Linked DNA regions of Homo sapiens. The protein of the gene in region 2 interacts with the protein of the main gene of each other region in a pairwise test. Each region holds a gene or a part of one and is shown on either strand. Other genes may lie near its edges.

Region 1 (6,957 bases), on a different chromosome or scaffold from region 2:
TCCAGGGACACCAGCTGGCACGCCGCCTCGGGCACCTCGGGAAACCGGTTCCGGGACAGGTCTGGGGAAAAGGAGGTGTCGGGGAGAGTTGCGGAAAGGCCCAGCCCGGACAGGACCTTCAGTCCCCCCAGAGCCGGCTGCCCACTCCCTCACCTCCACACCTAAAGATTCAAGGCCATCAATGTGGCCTCCCAGGAGAGATAACAAAGCCTTCTGCCAACGGGAGCACATTCCAGGCGTGACCAGAATGGCACAGGGAAGGCAAAGGCCTTAGCGTCACTGGGCTAGAGAAGCCTCAGACTTGGGGGTTGGGGAATGTCAATGGAGGGCTATCCTGGAGAGCAGCTGGAATCTCTAACTCCTGTGGTTCCTGTTCAGAGATGCCAGGTGAGGCGGAGGACCGAAGGTGAGAGGAGGGGTCAGTGCTCATGGGAAAACAGTAAGGCGAGGGGCTGGGGGGCTCCCGGAGGGAAGATGGGAAACCCCTGGGGCAAACCACAGGGAGTGCCCATCCCTCCTCGGGGCCCTTCTTCCCTACTCCAGTGTGTTTTCAACACGGGAAAAACCACAGGTCACTCTATCTTGGTTCTAGAGATAAAGTCCCCGACACCGGACGAGTTTTTCGCCAGCCCCAAGGACCAGCAAGCCAGGTCCAAAGAATCATAAAGTTACTGATTCCCAAGGGCTGGGAGGGAAGGGCAAGAAGACCTGGTTGGAGATGGGAGCTGGAGTTCCCAGGTCCCTCCCATCTGGGCTTCTCTGGCCCAGGGCAGGCATCCTTCCTACCCTCTGCTAGCCCTAGCAGCCCGGCTCTGCTTCCTCTCTTACTGACACAGACTTCAAGAGATCAGCAACTGTGTGAGCATCTCAGGCACGGCGAGGGTGGAGAGTGTGGGAGGGCCTGGGGTCTACAATCGCCCTCTTATCTGGAGCACTGCCTTGCTATGCGGAGGCTGGCAGCCTTGGGATTCCCTGTAGCACGGACCCACTAACGGCTTAGACCTGGAGAAGCCTGCCTTTCTGTTTCCTCGGCCCAGCCTGTCCTGGGAGGGGCCCAGGGCCCGCGAGGCGGAGTCCCAGGCCACAGACCTGGTGAGCTTCTCCAAGGGCCCTTCTCAGGGAAGGGCAGGCCAGCAAAAGCAAGCAGAGGAGAGAAGCCGGGTATATCCCCCAAGGAAATGAGTCTTGTGACAGGAAATGAAGTAGAAACAATCTGTCAGGTTCTGGCTCTGGTAGGCCCCGTGTTTACCAGGGTGGATGACAGCCTGATGCCCCGGGACCCCTTTCTCTTCCTCTCTGCCCAGCCCTGGTGCACAGACAGAAGCCCTGGCCTCAGAGATGACCGTTCTGGAGAGGGTGGGGGGATGGCATTTGCCCCTCCCAGCCTCGCCTCCACCTGCCCGCTTTCTCTGCAAATGTGTTTGTGTGTGTGCATGTGGACGAAGGGGGTGGAGACCGAGTTCTCAGAGTTCTGATGGGGTAGGCGGTGGCGGGGACAAAAGCTAGGAGCGGAAGGGAGCTCAGGCAGGAGGCAGGGCACTGGGGGCACAGGATGTGGTCTGGGAGAGAATGAGCTGCACTTCTCCTTTGCAAGATGGCCCCTCCCCGCCACCTCAGGATTCTTCCTACTATCACCCCAGGGAGCCTAGTCCAAGGGAGATCAGGGACCCAAGACTAGGCGACACGCAGCGAAGACACTCAGAAAGAGATGGGAGACGGGAGGGGAAGGCTCAAGGCAGTCCGGGCAGCAAGGCACTGATGCTTTTCGTCTGCTTGGAGGGCGAGGAGAGATGGAGGGCAGGGTATGGGCAACTGTATGTTTTTGTCACTTCCCCTTTCTGTCCCTGCTTGCGGAGAGGGGACAGAGGAGAGAATTCTGGACAAGAGGGACCCCACTTGGCCTAGAACCTGGGCCCTGTGTAGAGAGTGGGGCAGAGGAGGGTTCTTGGGAAGCTGGGATTTCCGACCCCCCCCCAAGCTCACAGGAGCACGGCTGCACCCTGAGCCGGAATGCTGGGGGAGGAGGGGGCCGGGGGCGGGAGCTGGGAGGGGCCGGGGAGCTCCGGGTAGTTTTCCCCAAGAGTCCACACAGGGAGAGACAGCCTAAGGAAGTAAAGAATAACATTTGGTCTTTGTCAAAAAACAACCAAGGGGGAGGGGAAGGGAACAGACAGTGAGTGTCACACAGCTGCTGAGGTCAATCTGGAGTGTGGGGTTAGGTGGGGGTGGGAGGGAACAGGGCTGTAAGGGGCAGGAATGGCTCCTGGAGCTCACTCATTCCCCATCTCAAGTGTTGCAGAGCAGGCGAGATCAGTGGGGAGGTTTCGACTGGTTCTCCCCAGAAGAGGGAAGAGGATGTGTGCCAGTGCCGGCCTGAGTGTTCCCAGGTGAGCAGGCACCTGCTTAGGGAGAAGTAAGCACTATCCTCCAGCTCTGGTCCCCCACCGTGCAGATGAGAGGAGGAAGAGGCCTGGGCTGGGGTGAGGCTTCGGGAATGCAGTCCTCCTCCCTGATCCTGATCCCCACCCCCAGCTGCCGGCCCAAGGTCATAGGCTGCCTCCTGAGTAGCTGAGGCTTGACTCACCTGTCACAGTTAAGTCCCCCACCCCCTACCATCCACAGACACCAGGGTGGAGGGTGCATGGTTGGACAGATCCTGCGGGTGGAGGCGTGGAAGGACAGTCTCTAGCTGGCCAGCACTCCCAGCTAGGAGATAAGATTTCCTTCCCTCCAGCAACGGCCTCAAGTCCCTCCCCCGGGGGAAAGCAGAAACTGAAATGGGAATTCTAAGATCCCTATGAGGTCACAGGCTCCACAGTGACCTCACAGGCTTAGGAAGGAGGAGGAGGAATCTCAGATAAGCCGGTTGGGGATAATAGGCGGAAGAGCTCAGGGAGAAAAGAGTGAGGGGAGGTAGAGATTTGTTTCTTTCCCATAGGCTGGAGAGCTGCGTGGACAGTGGAGAGGGCCAGGACCTTAGGGGGCGGGGTTGCGGCACAGAAAGCAGAAACCTCGGGCTTAGGGGCCAGTCACTGGGAAGGGGGTGCCCGGGGCTGCTCGGATCTCGGTGGGACGGGGGTTAAGAGGTGTAGATGAAGAGGGAGAGAAAGCAGTTATTAGAGGAGCTCGTGGGGACTGCTTCATAGACCGATTGGAGCTGAGGTTAAGAGATCATGTAAATAAGCCAACCAGGTGAGGGGCGGGACCATCCTACAGGTGCGCAGATATGCAAATAAAGAGAAAGGAGGAATCTCTCCCAACGCTCGGAGGCGCAGGGCGTTCTGTGCAAACGAGAAGCACGTTCATTGTCTAGGGGGTTCTCAAAGATGGGAGAGGATGGCTGCAGGTTTAGGGCAATCAGGAGGGGCAGCAACCCTGGCCGCCAGGTGAAGGGGCGGGCCCGACTCCCGGGCCGGGCGGGGCCCGGGGTGGGGCTATGCAAATGAGGGACCCGGTTGGGCCCGGGGCCCGGCTGCACTCACCAGCCTGGGTGATGTCTGACAGGTCGTAGCTACGGGCCGCGCCCCGGGGGAAGTGCTTCAAGCGCCGGTTAGACAGGTTCAGGGTCCCGGTGGCCACGGCCTCCTCTAGGGCCCGCTCTGCACTGCGTCTCCCCGGCAGACCTGGAGACCCGGGCACGGAGGTCGTGGCTGCCGCCTCCTCACCCCCGGCGGCGAGTGGAGCCGCTACGGCCGCCGCCATCCGCTCCCGGCGGCTCCCGCTGCCTGACTGACGGGACCGGCCGTCCCTCCTTCCCCCACCCCCTCCTTGGAGCCGCCGTAGTTGCCTCAAGGGGGAGGGAGCGGTGTCCGGGACCGGACGGACCAATCGTGGCCCCGAGACGCGTCAGAAGCGGCCAATCAGAACCCGTCAGTGGGGGTGGAGCTCCGGCGCCGGAGTCTGACGAGAGAAGGGAGGGGAACAAGGATAGAGCGCTCGCCAACGGCCGACGCTCCAGGCCGTCCCGCCCAGCGCAGCTGCACCCAATCACAATGCTCAGATCGGGAGGTGGAGCCAATCAGGTCCAACCAAGAGGAGGGGACACCGGCACTCCACTAGCAGGAAAACGGGCCGAGGGACCGCAAGCAGGGGGTGCCTAGTCCTCGTCCCCCAAAGACCAATCGTAAGCCAGATACAGGCGAGTGACTGTCAAGAAGGCCAATTAGAGCCTCCGAAGGGAATCTGGACCTGCCTCTTCTCTGAGGGACGGCTCTACCTACCAATAGCATGGGCGAGAAGGCGGTCCCTTTGCTAAGGAGGAGGCGGGTGAGCTAGAACTTTAAGACTGAGGTTAAGAATGAACGCGGAGCCCCTGGCCGGCCGGGAACGCAGTTCGCCGCTGCAGTGGCGAGTGCGAGCTGGACGTGTTAGGGGGCTAGCCGGCGTCCAGGGCTTGAGGGGATTCGGGCGACTGCTTGAGGCCAGTGCACTGGCGGTTGTCGCAGCTGAAGGGGCAGCGGGGGGACCTCCGACTGTGAAGCCTCTGGCAGGGGTCTCGGGACCCCCGGGCTGGGGGCGGGCGGGGGGCTTCCCAGAGCCTGGAGATGCCCAGCTCGAGGAGGGAGGGTGTAGGTGCAGCGTTGCACGGTCTGCCGTCTCACCCGAGGAGCTCCCCTGGACAGGAATGGAGAGGGGACCAGACCACGGGGTTTTAGAGGCTTAGAAAGGATCTCACCGCCTAGAACACGCCCTTGGTGCTACGAATGCAGAAACTGAGGCAGAGGGAAGTTGATGCGTTAGCAAGAGCGAACAGCAAGTTCCTGACAGCTGGCTTGCTCTAGAAACCAGGTCTCTGGATCCTCCACGCACAGCCCTTTCCCGCTCCCTCAGTTTTCACAGTGGATGTTTTCACTCCCTTCCTCTCTTCCTCCCTCCCTCCCTCTCCCTTCCGTTCCCTTCCTCTTTTTATTTTTTTATTTTTTGAGATGGAGTCTCGCTCAGTCGCCCAGGCTGGAGTGCAGTGGCGCGATCTCGGCTCACAGCAACCTCCACTGTCCGGGTTCAAGCAATTCTCCTGCCTCAGCCTCCCGAGTAGCTGGGACTACAGGCGCCCGCCACCACACCCGGCTAATTTTTTGTATTTTAGTAGAGACGGGGTTTCACCGTGTTGCCCAGGCTGGTCGCAAACTCAGGAGCTCAGGCAATATGCCCTCCTCGGCCTCCCAAAGTGCTGGCATTACAGGCGTGAGCCACCGCGCCCGGCCTTTTTTTTTTTTTTTTTAAGAAGGTCTGATTCTGTCGCCCAGGCTGGAGTGCAGTGGTGCAGTCATGGCTCACTGCAGCCTTGAATGCCTGGGCTCAAGTGATCCTCCTGCCTCAGCCTCCCAAGTAGCTGGGACCACGGGCGGCACCACTGCACCTGGCTAATTTATTTTCAATTTTTGTAGAGATGGGGTTTTGCTATGTTGCCCAGGCTGGTCTCAAACTTTTGACCTCAAGCGATCCTGCCTCTGCCTCCCAAAGTACTGGGATCACAGGCGTGAGCCACCGCACCCGGCCCACAGTGGACTTTTTCTTTCTTTTGAGACAGAGTCGCTCTGTTGCCCAGGCTGGAGTGCAGTGGCTTGATCGCAGCTCACTGCAGCCTCAACCTCCCACCTCAGCCTCCCGAGTAACTGGGACTACAAGCACGCACCACCATGCCAGCTAATTGTATTTTTTGTAGAGACAGGGTCCTACTATGTTGCCCAGGCTGATCTCAAACTCCTGGGCTCAAGCAATGCTCCCACCTCGGCCTCCCGAAGTGCTGGGATTATAAGCGTGAGCCACAAAGCCTGGCCCACAGTGGACTTTTTCTATTCACAACCTCTCGTTTGCCTCCTGGGGTGAAATGGAGTGGATAAAGGGGACCCAAATGCAAGAGGAATGGAAAATACCTTTCTGTCTACTTGGAGATCTTCCTTTCTAAGTGGCATGAGTCCCTAATGCAGTCCCCTCCCTATGTGGTAGGTTGCCCAGAAATAAGTCACTGAAGTTGCTTTCTCCTTAGTTCACATCTCAGAGGTTGATATTCCTGAGTAGTTGCTGAAGAATTAAAATTCCATCTCAGGCATCCCAGCCTAGCCATGGCTAGGCACCATACATAAGGGAATTTGGGTGGTCAGTCTGGTGCAGTCAATGAACGGATCTGTGACACTGTGTGGTGAGGGCTGGTGGTCTGGCAGGATGGGACTCCTTTGAGCCCCTGCAAGAGCCAGCCACTCCTTGGATTTATTGGTGTAGATCTGGCCTGAGTGGGACAGACACAACCCTGACCCCTGCTGTTTCTCCTGATAAATGTCACCCCACATAAGACAAAGCTAATATCAGAGACCCTGGGAGAAATCCTAAGCTTTCAGAGGAAATCCATCCCTTTCTCCCACCTTAATAGGTTGTCCTTTATACATGCAATGATGTTACTGTCCCTCAGGAAAGCAAAAGCAGTCTTCTTTTTTGTTTGTTTTTTTTGAAACTGGGTATCATTCTCGCCCGGGCTGGAGTGCAGTGGCACGATCATAGCTCACTGCTGCCTCAAACTGGGCTCAAGCAATCCTCCTGCCTCAGCCTCCTGTGTAGCTGGGACTACAGGGGTGCATCACCACGCCTGGGTAATTTTTAAGTTTTTTTTTTTTTTTAATAGACGCAGGGTCTATGTTGACCAGGCTGGTCTTGAAACCCATGGCCTCAAGCCATCCTTGCACCATGGCCACCCAAAAGTGCTGGGATTTCGGGCGTTAGCCACCGGCACCAGGCTGCAGTCTCCTTTTGGATGTGTTTTTTCACAAGTCTAAAGAGTTTGCTGAATCATTTGTGAGCTAAACGATTATTAGCACAGTCACCTCTCCATCTCACCTGTCAAACTGAGTTTATAGTTTTTTGAGTCTATACTCTTGAGCTACCAATCCCTAGAGGCCTTGGCCTGCTGAAATGTGAGGAATTCACTAGTGTTTCTCTACAGAGTTAGTGCTAAAAGGGCCT
Region 2 (7,700 bases):
ACTTTTCTAGCTGAAGCAGGCAAGGTAGTATCTTTGTCAACATTAAGATTTTGTTTAGATTCTGCGGAAAAATGAATTGTACAGATCATGGTTGATGTCAATGTGTTTTAACTACACACAAAACACAATTTCCAAATTTTTTTGTCTTTCTCTTTTTGTTTGTTTTTGTTTTTTGAGACAGTCTCACTGTCACCCAGCCTGGACTGCAGTGGTGTCATCTCAGCCCACTGCAACCTCTGCCTCCCAGTTTCAAGCAACTCTCCCACTTTCCTCCCTAGTAGCTGGAACCACAGGCGCACCCCACCACACCTGGCTAATTTCTGTATTTTTAGTAGAGATGGGGTTTCACCATGTTGGCCAGGCTTGTCTCGAAATCCTGAACTCATGTGATCCACCCACCTTGGCCTCACAGAGTGCCAGGATTACGAGCACGAGCCACCTTGCCCGGCCCCAAATTTCTAATTACAACTTTTGATGAAACAATATATTCTTTCCTTAGTTGTACATTTTCAAATAATTACTCATACAATTTTTTTACACATCTAACACCTTTCTGATTTTCCTAATATTCCCTGACAAGTCAAGGTAATTACCAAAAGGGAAGCTACATATCAATATAAGTATCTTGCTTAATTTTCCTGGTTATATAACAATGTAATGATGACAGCATTATTCTGTACTTGACCCTTTCATAAATCCATCAAATAAAATTTAAATATAGTTCTAGCTTCACATTTTAAAAAATGCTATAACATCTTTAAATATTGTTATTCATAACTTTAAAACTTATAAGATCACATAACCATTGTTCTTTGGTGATCTATATTACCTTTTTGTTGTTTAAATCTTTGTGATTTCTGAAAGGATACTGGTCCTTTCAATACTTCTAAAGTTTTAACATCATAAGCACCTGGAGATGGTGCACAACCTAGAGGAAATAGAAAACATTAATATATTATCTAATGTTACTTATGATCTTAAGTTAAAACATGTCATAATAAAGTGAATATAAATGTAAAAATGTCATTAACAAACTGCTTTTTTTAAATGTAAAAAATTGCATCCATTTGATATTACAAAGAAGGCCTCTCTATGAAGAACAATATCATCTTGCCCTTTATATCAACCGGGTCAAAGGAACACAGGCAACTGAGCAAACGACAGTTTTGAGATGAACATCATATATTACAGGCAATATATGGCTTTCTTACTAAGGATTGAATATAGCAAATAAAATACTTGGTGTCAACTCTACTCGAAGAGAGTCACAAAGATAACTACTATCAGTTTCTAGAAATAAAGTAATTAAAATTGTCTATCCCTCAATGTTTAGCCTAGAATAAAAATTTATAGTGATAATCCATCTCTGGCTAATATCAATACATCAGACCTATTAAAGATGTCAACTGCAATTCAAACACATGGAAGAAAAGCAACCACACTAGAGCAACTAGAATTTTTTGAGCACTTACTAAATGCCAGGCATTATGCTAAGCATTTCACAGATGTTATTTTATTTAATCCTCACAAGAATCCTGTGTGATAATTTATAGACAAAGAATGTGAGGCTTAGGAAATTCAAAAAGCCAATGTTACACAAAGTACAAATTGTACTAGACTATATTTGTATGTTCCAGAAGTTTATACTGCATAATTTCACTTAACTAAAGTCCCAGATTTGAAGGCATTTCTGAGTAAATACACATAGCAGACCTGAGATGGGGCCTTTAGGACTTAAAGTAATTAAAATACTACTAGCCTAAAGCTTTAGCTGATTGGGAACAAATAGATTAATACTATTCTCTGAAAAGCTATTTACTTCAGTCTAGAGTCTCATGCAAATAAATAGGAAGAGCAAGGAGCTTGGACCATTCCCAGGCAACTACTGCTGTCCCCTAAATGTTTGTCAAACAGTAGACAGGAACTCATGATTTTTTTTTTTTTTTTTTTTTTTTTGAGACGGAGTCTTGCTCTGTTGTCTAGGCTGGAGTGTAGTGGCGCCATCTTGGCTCACTGAAACCTTTGCCTCCTGGGTTCAAGCGATTCTCCTGCCTCAGCCTCCCGAGTAGCTGGGATTACAGGCTCCCACCACCACGCCCAGCTAGTTTTTTGTATTTTTACTAGAGACAGGGTTTCACCATGTTGGCCAGGCTGGTCTTGAACTCCTGACCTCAGCTGATCTCTCTGCCTCGGCCTCCCAAAGTGCTAGGATTACACGTGTGAACCACCAGGCCCAGCCCCATGAGTAGATCTTGATTAGCATTTTTTAAAAAGTAAAAACAATAGAAAAAGCATGACTCATATGCTGCAAAGTTAGGCATTGTTTTGTGAAACTTTTCTTTCGTATGTATGTGTAGAGATATAAAAATACATCTTAGGTTGAAATATAAATTTTGGGGGTTTTTTTGCTTTTTTTTTTTTGAAACAGAGTCTCGCACTGTCACCCAGGCTGGAGTACTGGAATATGAAAAATCACCACAGTGCCTCATACACATTAAGCATCAAATTAATAATTAGTATTATTTCTGTAACTGTGAGCCTGAAATACTATATCTTTGATAAAGCCAGTTTAACCTACTATAATGCAAACAACAAAAAAACCAAAAAAACCTTAAAGCCACACTGCTGACAAAACTTAAGAGTAGGTCCTTTGATTACTCGGGAAATCATATGGTCCTTGAGTCTTTTAACTAAGAAAATAAGTTTGTGCTGATTCACTTGCTCATTTGGCCTTCCTTTGTGAGTAGTTGTATTTTCATTCACACGTTGGCTGACAAAACTTAGAGACGTAATGAGTAACCACGAAATAGTGTATGATAGTGAATAAATCATGAGCTTTAATATTTAGCTCTACCACTTACTGATTGTGCAAGATACAAAACCTCTGTTTTCTCATCTGTAAAATGAGGTCAATATCAGTACCTTCCTCACTTGGCTTTTGGAAGGAATAAACAAGATCTAGTAGCACAGTCCCAGCATACAGCATTTTTTTTTTTTCTGTAAGACAGAGTCTTGCTCTGTCGCCCAGGCTGGAGTGCAGTGGCGCGATCTCGGCTCATCGCAAGCTCCGCCTCCCGGGTTCACGCCATTCTCCTGCCTCAGCCTGTAGTCAGCTGGGACTACAGGCGCCCGCCACCGCGCCTGGCTAATTTTTTTTGTATTTTTAGTACAGACGGGGTTTCACGGTGGTCTCGATCTCCTGACCTCGTGATCCACCTGCCTCGGCCTCCCAAAGTGCTGGGATTACAGGCGTGAGCCGCCGCGCCCGGCCGCATACAGCATCTTAAATGATGAGTGCCTACCAAACACAGCTAAGGCTTCCTGGTTACTGTGCTGTGCATTGCGGTGTTAAGAGCACACGATGGGGGCTGGGTTCATATTCCAGTCCGGTCACTTTGGTAATGTAGCACTGAGCAAATTTAAGTCTCAGTCTTTTTATCAATAAAATAATAATAGGATTACCCCTTAGAGTTGGTGGGAAATTAACATAACTAATAATCGATGTAAAGCCTTAGTACGGTGCTTGAGGTATAAGTGGTCAATATCAGCCATAACTTCATTGTTTATGTTTTCAATAAGTGCTGCTGCTCTAATTTTACACCCATAAACTGCCTTTACTAATCTTCCTTCTTTTATGCCCAAATGGAATACACAAAAGAAATGCACAAGTTCAGACTACAAGTAATACTCCAGTGTTCTTATCAGTGAGGCCCTCTCGGACTTGAAAATCAAGTAGCTACCAACGTCTCGGGTCCATTCCCTTCGCCCTGCTGTAGTTTCTCCATTACCGCTGTTTATTGACAGTATTCCCCGCCTGAATGTAAGCCCCACGGGGCGGAGACTGTTTCACTGCGGTATCCTTAGCATCCTGATTAGTGCTTGGCATGTAACAGATGCTTAGAGCATATTTGAGAAAAATCAATCAACTGAATGAGCCCCAGCCCGACCCTAAAATCGCCTCCTGCTTGCCTCCCAAGAAGGGAGCTGAAAGAGGCAAAGGGCGTTAGGGCGTCTCCCGTCCCCCAGCTCTTTCCCCCTTACGCACCAGAAGGGTCATTGAATCGTTTCAAGGGCGCCTTAGGAAAGGACATGTTGACGGCCAGCTCCAGAAACTGAAGGTGACTGGCACTCCTCGACAACTGAATGCGGATTATCACTCCCTACCGGTTTCAAATTCAAATCTCCCCACATTCCCCACCCACCCCGGCGTTAGCCAATTGGAAAGCCAAACCCCTGGGCACACCAATCCCGCACAGGAACACGAAGAAAGAATGCTGGGTTCTGATTGCGTCCAATTAGCTGGCCTGCGAGTTTAGGCTGCCATCCAATAGGAGACCGTTACTGTTCCCCGCCCCACCCACCCAGTCATTCCCGGAGTTACTCAAGTGTAACCTAGCATTTGCGCAAGCGCACTTCCCTCCGGAGACGTTAGAAAGTGCATTTTGGCGTCACTTAGGGGACGGTGTAGTGAGTTCCGGCTTCACTGGTTCCAATTCTGTCCCATTGTTCGTTGCATGTGAACTTTTCTGGATTTCAGTTCTTTCATCCGGGGCCTGCCGGTGCCGTAAACGGCCATTCAAAGGGAAAAACGAACACGCACACCAAAGCGCTAGCTTGCGTTCCTGCGCATGCGCAGTGACCCGAGCGGAGAGGCCGAGGCGTAGCCTAAGCGTGGGATTCCGCGCGTGCGCTCGGCTCCGCCTGGTGCGGCCGCGGCCGGGAGGGACTGGATTATGTCGGCCCCGTTTGAGGAGCGGAGTGGGGTGGTACCGTGCGGGACCCCGTGGGGCCAGTGGTACCAGACCTTGGAGGAGGTGTTCATTGAAGTTCAGGTGCCGCCAGGCACGCGCGCCCAGGATATCCAGTGCGGCCTCCAGAGCCGGCATGTGGCGCTGTCGGTGGGCGGCCGCGAGATCCTCAAGGTAGCGGCAGCTCGGGGCTTGTGTTCAGTTTCCTCTTCCCAGACGCCCCCAGCCCCGTTTCCCTGAACGACTGTTGGGTGTCCCGACGGCTCCTGTGGCTGGCAGAAAGAGAAAGAGGATAACACTGACCAGGTTTGGGTCTGGTCAGAGCCCCCGCCTCTTCAGGGCAGGTGCTGAGTTGTGGAAATTTGAGGAGCCTATTTTCGTGTTTAGTTTTCAAACTAAGACTGCTGCTTCTGCTTCTCTGACGGGCTTCAGCTGGGAACAGATTAACTAGGTTGCTAAAGGAACAAATATTTCTTCCGTGCACTGAAGACAGGCAGGAAGACAACAGATAACGTACCTGCAGTGGAGAGGTTAAGCTCCTGTACGGAAGCGTAATTCATAAATAGATAAATATAGGAAAGGACAACAAAGAAAATAGGGATAGAATAACGGGCAGAGAATTTAGAGATGATGTCAGGTGATTAGTTTTCTCATCTAAAAGCTTGAAAATCCTGCATGTTTGTGGAGTGGTCAAGCAGGTGGTGAAGAGGTGTGTGCATAAAATAAGTAGTACTCCTTTTATTTCTTTTCACCAATGCTCTTTGGATCTGGACCCGCTTTTTCTTTGTTAAGTGTATAATTAAACTAACAGGTTGAAATTAGATTTAGTTCTCAGGTTAGATGCCCAAGATGTTTGATGGCAGTGTAATATGGTGAAGGGAGACTACTTGTTTCCTAGTTTTGTAAACTTGGGCGAGAGATTGTTCAGTGTCTCTATATCTTCCTTATCCACAAGATAAGGTAGTTATAGTACCCTTCTCATGGGATTGTTTTGAGCTTAACATGGTATTCACGTGTATGAAGAGCTTGGAGTATTCACTGGTATGTAATAAGTTCATACTATATGTTAGCTATTAGCTATTATATATATTACAGTATATGGAGGTGCTTTGAGTGCCTCAAGATTCGTGTGAAAGACATTATGTCAGCTTGGATCTCAGTTACTTTTCTGAATTGTACAATTCATAGTTTCCTCAACAATGGTTTTAGATTACGATTATAAATTAGTAAATCCAGTAACTTTCGGAATTTAGCAGTAGCTGCTGAATTTGGGATTTCTGATGTACGTATAGACCAGTGGGATTTTTTTCTCACTAATTTTGACATATTTTAAAATGTGGGCTTTTCCTAGTGACATTTAATTTCACTTTCTATAACTTAAATTTGGCAACAAATTAAAATGGATTTGAGTTTAGGCATTCTCTCTTTAAAAAAAAATATATATTTATTGAGACAGGGTCCCTGTCTCCCATGCTGGGGTGCAGGGGTGAGATTGTAGCTCACAGCAGCCTCAAACCCATGGGGTCAAGCAATCCACGTTGGCCTCCAAAGTCCTGGGATTACAGGCCTGAGCTACTGGGCCTGGTGCAGTCTCTTTTAAATTTATATTTTGTTTATTTTTTTAAAAAACATGAGTTTGTGAACAGTTAGTCACAACTAATCTATCAAATCTGGAATACGTAAAGTTTTTTTAATGCCGATTGCCCAACAAAAAGATTAAAACGTTTTTAAAAGTTTACTTTAAAAACAACATTTTGCCGGGTGCGGTAGCTCATGCCTGTAATCCTGGCACTTTGGAAGGCCTAGGCGGGCGGATCACAAGGTCAGGAGTTCGAGACCAGCCTGGCTAACACGGGGAAACCCCATCTCTACTAAAAATACAAAAATTAGCCGGGCGTGGTGGCGGGCGCCTGTAGTCCTAGCTACTTGGGAGGTTGAGGCAGGAGAATCGCTTGAACCCTGGAGGTGGAGGTTGCAGTGAGCCAGATCGTGCCACTGCAGCCTGGGCGACAGAGCGAAACTCTGTCTCAAAAAAAAAAAAAAAAAAAAAAAAAAAGACAACATTTTTTAGTTTTAGCAGGAGATCCCTTCTTGTGGTTAATTTAAATTGGTAGAATTAAAGCATTTCAGATATTAATTTCACATTTGGCCAGTGGTCAGTATTACTGTATCTTCTAAAAATTAAGGAGCCCTGATCTTTCTTTAGAGAGCTCTGTGTTCTTTGCCATAGTAAATATCCCTTGCAGTGTAAACTAGTTTCCATTTTACCTGCTGGGAGAAAATTTAGGGTTGTGCACCTATAAATGTCATGGTGAAGTGGTGGTATAAGATGTGGATTAGGTAGGAAAGTAGGTAAATCTTAATCATGAAAACTTTATAAAAATTAAATTCTGTATTTTTAGCACCTTATATGTTTATTTTTCAGGGCAAACTCTTTGATTCTACAATAGCTGATGAGGGAACATGGACTTTGGGTAAGGGTAATTACTATAATTCATCAAATTAAAATAATTTTGTCTTGATATCTTTTCCTCTTTTGTATTAGGTCTTTTTTGTCTTTGCAGCTTTGAAAGATAAAGCAATAGAAATGTGTTGAAAACCGTTGTATGTCAAAGTTACCTAGTGGGGGGAGAAAAAATTAGTTAGTTGTTTTTGGAAATATAAAATTTAATGAAGAACTTCTTGAGACCACCCTGGCCAACATGGCAAAACCCCGTTTATACTAAAAATACAAAAGTTAGCCGGGCATGGTGGCGCATGCCTGTATTCCCAGCTAGTCGGGAGGCTGAGGCAGGAGAATCACTTGAACCCGGGGGGCGGAGGTTTCAGTGAGCCGAGATCAAGCCGCTGCACTCCAGCCTGGGTGAGAGTGATACTGTCTCAAAAAAAAAAAAAACAACTTGATGAAGAACTCTAATTTATTTGTGCGTGTGTGTGTGTGTGTTTTTTTTT
Region 3 (5,490 bases), on a different chromosome or scaffold from region 2:
CTTTCCCACTGGCAGGTGTATACTATCAGATACTAGAAACTCAGAAAATTGTATTTGATTTGAGTAAACATCCTCACTATCATCTGGACTTGAATCTGGAATTTAAGAGAGTGAATACAGTCAAGTATAATAAATGCACTAAAGTATAATGGACCAAAGCCTGCGTAAGGTGGGCTAATACCTGCCTCACAGGATTGGTTCAAGGATTAGGCACAAATACGGAGCATTTATGCCATGCCTGGAACATCGTGTTCAGTAAATGGATATGGCGAGACTGTGTATTGTTAGATTTGAGCCCTGCTGTGCCTTAGTCCCAGCTACTCAGGAGGCTGAGGCTGGAGGATTGCTTGAGCCCAGGAGTTCTGGGTTACAGTGTGCTGTGCTGATGGGATGTTTGCACTAAGTGCAGCATCAATATGGTGACCTCCTGGGAACAGGAGACTCCCAGGTTGCCTAAGGAGGGGTGACCTGGCCCAGGTCAGAAACAGAGCAGGTCAAAACTCCCTTGCTGATCAGTAGTGGGATCGCACCTTTGAACAGCCACTGCACTCCAGCCTGGGCAACATAGTGAGACCCTGCCTTTGAAAAAAGAAGAAAAAGGATTTGAGCCCCATTTGGGATGGGCCAAAGAGGAACAGGCGTTTTTATTGAGATGTTAATACAGGATTTGATCATTGAGTCTCAACTTCCCTAACTGAATTGGCAAACTAGATACCTTCTTGGGTTATGGTATATTAGAGAAACACGAAAACTACTGGCATTTGGACTTTCTTAGAATTTTGTGGCTCATTAAAAATTGTATCTGGCTCAGTGTGATGGAGGGTTGGGACCGGGCAGGGTCTTGCTCTGTCACCCAGGCTGGAGTGCAGTGGTGCAGTCATGGCTCGCTGCAGCCTCGACTTCCCAGCTCAAACAGTTCTGCATCAGTCTCCCGAGTAGCTGGGACTACAGGCACACACTACCATGCCCGGCTAATTTTTTTTTTAATTTTGTATTTTGTAGAGAGGGGGTCTCACTATGTTTGTTGTCCAGGCTTACGTGTGAGTTTTAAATAAACCATTTCTTTTTCTTTCAGATTTCCACAAGACGGCACCCTATGTCGTCACTGGCAGCGTAGATCAAACAGTAAAAGTGTGGGAGTGCCGTTGATTGTGTCTCCTTCGGCCCCTCCTCCCTCTTTTCCTCTGGATGCACTCTGATGATACCATGGTTACCCCATTGAGCTCTGTTTAAATAAATATTGTCCTTTCATGTAAATTATTCTGGATGTAGATTGAGCTTATTAAATGTTACACACAAAGTATTCATGCATGGTGAATCCAAATTGTATACTGTAAATTTACATACGTTGTCTAGAAGTACCATAGGGTTTAAAAACCTGGGCTGGCATTGGTCACACCAGGCCTAAGAAGGCAGAAGTTGAATCAATTGAACTAGGGCACTAAACTGAATAGTTGACAGTGTCATTTTATGTTGGATTATTAATTCCTGTTTTTCTTTCTGCTATCTGTTGGTGCCTGACTTGATGGCCTCATTTGGGGAAAAGTGGTGGTTATTAGGGCTTTTTCTGAAATGTGTATCTATGTAACATCACTTAAGTGTGCTTAATAAATCTTCTGTAAGGATTTTAGATGATAAGGCTACAATTCAGAATCTTCTGAACCATCTATGTAATGAATGGGGATTATACATTGGAATTTTTGTCATGACACATTTGCCAAATCAGTAGGATATATTTGTTTTGGCAGCCTATCACGCAGAGGCTAGTGGTATATTTATGTAAGAAAATGACTGTAAATCTCAAGAAAAATCTCAGCAGCTAATAGCAACTCATTTATTTCATTTTGGTCTTAATGCTTTGTAAACAGGTCAAAAAATACTGTCATACTCTAAGCTTCTATTTTCCACACTGGACATACTTCTAGTTGTATTCTCCATACTATTAGACTGTGTAGTGATGTGACTTCCAAGTAGAATTTAATCTCCCCATTGAGTGTGTCATGGTACAAATCACTATTCGTTTTTGGTGTTTTTTAGGGATGTGCAATGTGCATTACATAATGACAGAAATACTGAGAAGGTTCTGTGTGCCCATTTGAAAGGAGTGGGAGGAATACAGCAGTTTGTTTTTCAACATGAATCTGATATTGATTTAAACTGTGTTTCACTTACAAGTTTTAAAAAAATGACAGGGTTTAATGGAGCGTGCATAAAAATGTACTGTTTTCACCTTTTGTTTATATGTAAATGTTTGTAAGTATATGGGCCTATCTGTAAGTGGATAAGTCTGTATGTGTGTATCATACACATCAACCTCCATGTCCTTAGTCCTGGGTTTTTGAAAAAGTGCTAAAACGGACAAGTAGAATAAATGTTGCTGTGGAATGCCATGCTTTAGAACAAACCCTTTTTGATCTTAATGCTTCTGAAAACTAGGTCTGACTCTGGGGATTTTTTTCCAGCCGAAGGAAAATCACTTCCGTTATGTCCCCCTCTAATTTAGCCGCTCGACATTTTACACAACCCGGATATGTTGTATATTTTGACCCAAAGTTACAGGTAGGTTTAAGAGAATTTTTAGCCATGACTTTTGGAGCACTATTCCATTGTCAGTTATTAATAAAGAATTCCATTGCTTAGCTAACCAACAGGTTTTTTTTGTTTCCAAGAGAGTTATTTGAAAAGTTAACAGAACAATGAGATAACAGTGACAGTTTAACAAAGATAAAATTCTGAACTGCGTTTTATTCATTTGTGTACTATGTGATTTTTTAAATGTCCCCTTTAGTATTTAATGGAAAATTGGTTCCTGCAAAAGACAAAGGGTGAGAGTTAGCGTCCTGTAGATACACACAGAGACTAGGCCGTATATTAACTAGAAGCAGCTTTATGTCTAGCTTGTGTCTTTTTGTTTGTTTGCTTGTTTGTTTTTAGATTCCTGAGAGATGTCTCTGGAAGGGAAAGTTTTGAGAACTAATGGCTATTTTTGAGGACAAAAATTACATCTTAAGCTAATTCCTTAAATACATACAGTAGGTGAATTTTCAGGACAATATTGCCTCACAACCCTGCTTACATTGAAAAGTCTTTTTCCCTTAGCTCTTCTGACTGGATTTTTCTACAAAAACTATGGAAAATATCTTTGTTCTTGTTTGCTGCTATTTTCTGTCCTATTTTGAGAAATATAAATACATAGAAATGGTGCATCTTAACATTTGTTTGTACATGTATAAATGTCTTGTATTTTAATTCATTTTTAGCATGAATTGTTTAAGGGTAAGCCACAACATCTAGAAATCACTCATAGATATTGAACAATAAAGGAGAATGGTACCGATGCAGGAGGAAGCAAGCGTGTCTTCCCCTGCAGCACACAGCGACTTGCGTTGACAAAGGAGGAGGAAACGATTACTCTGTAAACAAAGTTATCCTTACTTGGGAGATTGCCACAGCCTGCTGCTGAGTTGAGTTACCAGACATCCTCCATGTGAGAAGCAGCGAACATTGAATCTCAGGGATGGCCCACAACTGGGTCCACATGTAATGAGCCCTGTTTAATAACGAAGGGGTGGGGGAGAGCAGTCCGTCTACAACCTGGAATCAGATTTGCAAAATTTCCTGCACTGCTGTCTGACACTGTCCTGTTGATGCCCTTTCTGACTGTGTTCTCTGTTTTCTCTGTCTGCTGTCTAACCCTGTGCCTTGCCTGGGATAAGGACAATGATGAGGTTACTGGTTTGGATTGTAAGTAGAGGACTTTTATTAATTGGTTTAGAGGTTCACTGCTGCTTTGTCACTTTCTCAATCAAATTGGCCACTTAAGAAATAAAGAGCTGGTAGAATTGCATCCTCAGATGATTATTGACTGTGTGTGTGTGTGAAAACAGACATTCCAGTGCCACCCAAATATATATCTGTAACGTGCCCAAGAAATCCTAGCTGCGCTCTTGAGAGTGCATGCCATGGAGACTGGTTTAGACACCGCGTGGAGCCTAGTTGCCTGTTGTCACGGCATCTTGCACTTTAGGAGACTAAGACCGTCCTGGTTCGTCTGTGTGTGGTGTGACCAATGGTGTGCCCAGAGCACTACTCTCAAAATCACTAGTGTTAGCAAGTCGTCCCGGGCTGGGGAGCGTTCGCCGTAGTCTTTGGAAGCTTTGGCTTTAGATTTACCAAGCCCCGCCTCCCCGCTGCCAGTGCCCTGCTCTCCCGTTCGCCTCTTTCTGTTTCTGTGTGAACTTTCCCGGTAATATCACTCGTTAAATAGGTTTTCTTTAAACTTAATTAAAGAAAAACTATTTAAAGGTAAAGGATATTTTGTTGACATCGGTGGCTCGATCATCCTTAAGCAACTGAAGTTAAAATTGTTGAAGGAAAAGGCACTTAAATTGGTTACTTTCATGTCCAGCTGTATATAAGTCCAGTGTGTTCATCTAGATGACGCAAAGAATCTCCTGGTAGAGAAGCGACATGTAAAAAACTGGTGGAAAAAGGTTTTGGATTTTTTTTCCAGTGGGGTGGGGGGAGGGCAAGCTGGATTTACAGGTCACGGCTGGACTGAATGGGCCTTTTTATCTTCCCACTGTATCATGGAAGTAGCTGCTTGCTTGTACTGTCCATCCTTCAGGCATCCCTAAAGCTCACTCTGAAGATGTTAGAGACAAACACAAACTCTTCGAGTTAAAGTTGATCCTGACACTGACATGAAGGCAAGCCTTGATTTCGTATGAACGTTGCTGAAGTGGTAATTGAGGAAAACAGTTCCCCAGATTGTTAAGAGTTCACTGAAGATATTGACACAATTTTAAAAAATCAGTAAAGGAATGTATATAATATTGCTCTCGTGTTTTACAGTAAGATTTGTTGCTCTCAGACTGTGTAAAACAAAATTTATTCATGTTTTCTGCATATTAAAAAATCTTATTGTACCAACTGGTAAACTATTAAATGCCTATAAAACTAGATGTGATTTTTTTTTTTTTTTTTTTTTTTTTTTTTGTCTTCCTTTGCACAGGGGAAATGCTGATAGAAAGTGGGGCTGTGTGTAGCTCCAGTCACAAAGAGTGACACGAATCGGTGTCAGGGCAGTAAGGCCTCATGAGCTGCTTTCCTTCAGGGCAGCACCCGAACTGGCTTTGCTGTCCCCCTTCCCCCGGGTGGAGGAGGGAGTGCCTCAGCCTGAGCCTTGCCATGGCATGCGTCTGCGGCACAGGCCCGCTCTCCCCAACCCTCCCAGCAGCCCGTTCTGACTGTGGCTATCGCTGTGGCCAGAGAGCCAAAGCCAGGATGGCTGGTTACAGGCCCAAGACTAGACTCTTGGGGACAGAGTCTAGAGATAAGGGGCCCTGCCGGGCGCGGTGGCTCACGCCTGTAATCCCAGCTCTTGGGGAGGCAGAGACGGGAGGATAGCTTGAGCCCAGGAGTTCGGGACCTCCCTGGGCAATATAGCGAGACCCCGTTCTCCACAAAAAGGAAAAAAAAAAGATGGGG

Evidence for each region. Proteins that work in one complex are often made in the same cells at the same time.
Region 1: the proteins of NUDCD2 (region 2) and FBXO24 interact in binary tests that used the Homo sapiens proteins (3 or more experiments, as listed by UniProt).
Region 3: the proteins of NUDCD2 (region 2) and PAFAH1B1 interact in binary tests that used the Homo sapiens proteins (3 or more experiments, as listed by UniProt).

The regions. Positions count from the first base shown.
Region 1 is NC_000007.14:100,582,399-100,589,355, forward strand, and holds the start of FBXO24 (F-box only protein 24), read left to right. Parts: upstream 1-3,929; 5' UTR 3,930-4,227; coding exon 4,228-4,266; intron 4,267-4,287; exon of another isoform or gene 4,288-4,297; coding exon of another isoform or gene 4,298-4,351; intron 4,352-4,573; exon of another isoform or gene 4,574-4,788; intron 4,789-6,957. Other genes in the region: LRCH4 (leucine-rich repeat and calponin homology domain-containing protein 4), read right to left, coding at 1-61, 3,483-3,702. UniProt on the Homo sapiens protein: Substrate-recognition component of the SCF (SKP1-CUL1-F-box protein)-type E3 ubiquitin ligase complex.
Region 2 is NC_000005.10:163,457,084-163,464,783, reverse strand, and holds the start of NUDCD2 (nudC domain-containing protein 2), read left to right. Parts: upstream 1-4,681; 5' UTR 4,682-4,733; coding exon 4,734-4,922; exon of another isoform or gene 4,923-5,750; coding exon of another isoform or gene 5,751-5,789; intron 5,790-7,143; exon of another isoform or gene 7,144-7,173; coding exon 7,174-7,222; exon of another isoform or gene 7,223-7,367; intron 7,368-7,700. Other genes in the region: HMMR (hyaluronan mediated motility receptor), read right to left, coding at 1-61, 830-928, 4,046-4,091. UniProt on the Homo sapiens protein: May regulate the LIS1/dynein pathway by stabilizing LIS1 with Hsp90 chaperone.
Region 3 is NC_000017.11:2,680,654-2,686,143, forward strand, and holds the end of PAFAH1B1 (platelet-activating factor acetylhydrolase IB subunit beta), read left to right. Parts: intron 1-302; exon of another isoform or gene 303-581; intron 582-1,075; coding exon 1,076-1,149; 3' UTR 1,150-4,962; downstream 4,963-5,490. UniProt on the Homo sapiens protein: Regulatory subunit (beta subunit) of the cytosolic type I platelet-activating factor (PAF) acetylhydrolase (PAF-AH (I)), an enzyme that catalyzes the hydrolyze of the acetyl group at the sn-2 position of PAF and its analogs and participates in PAF inactivation.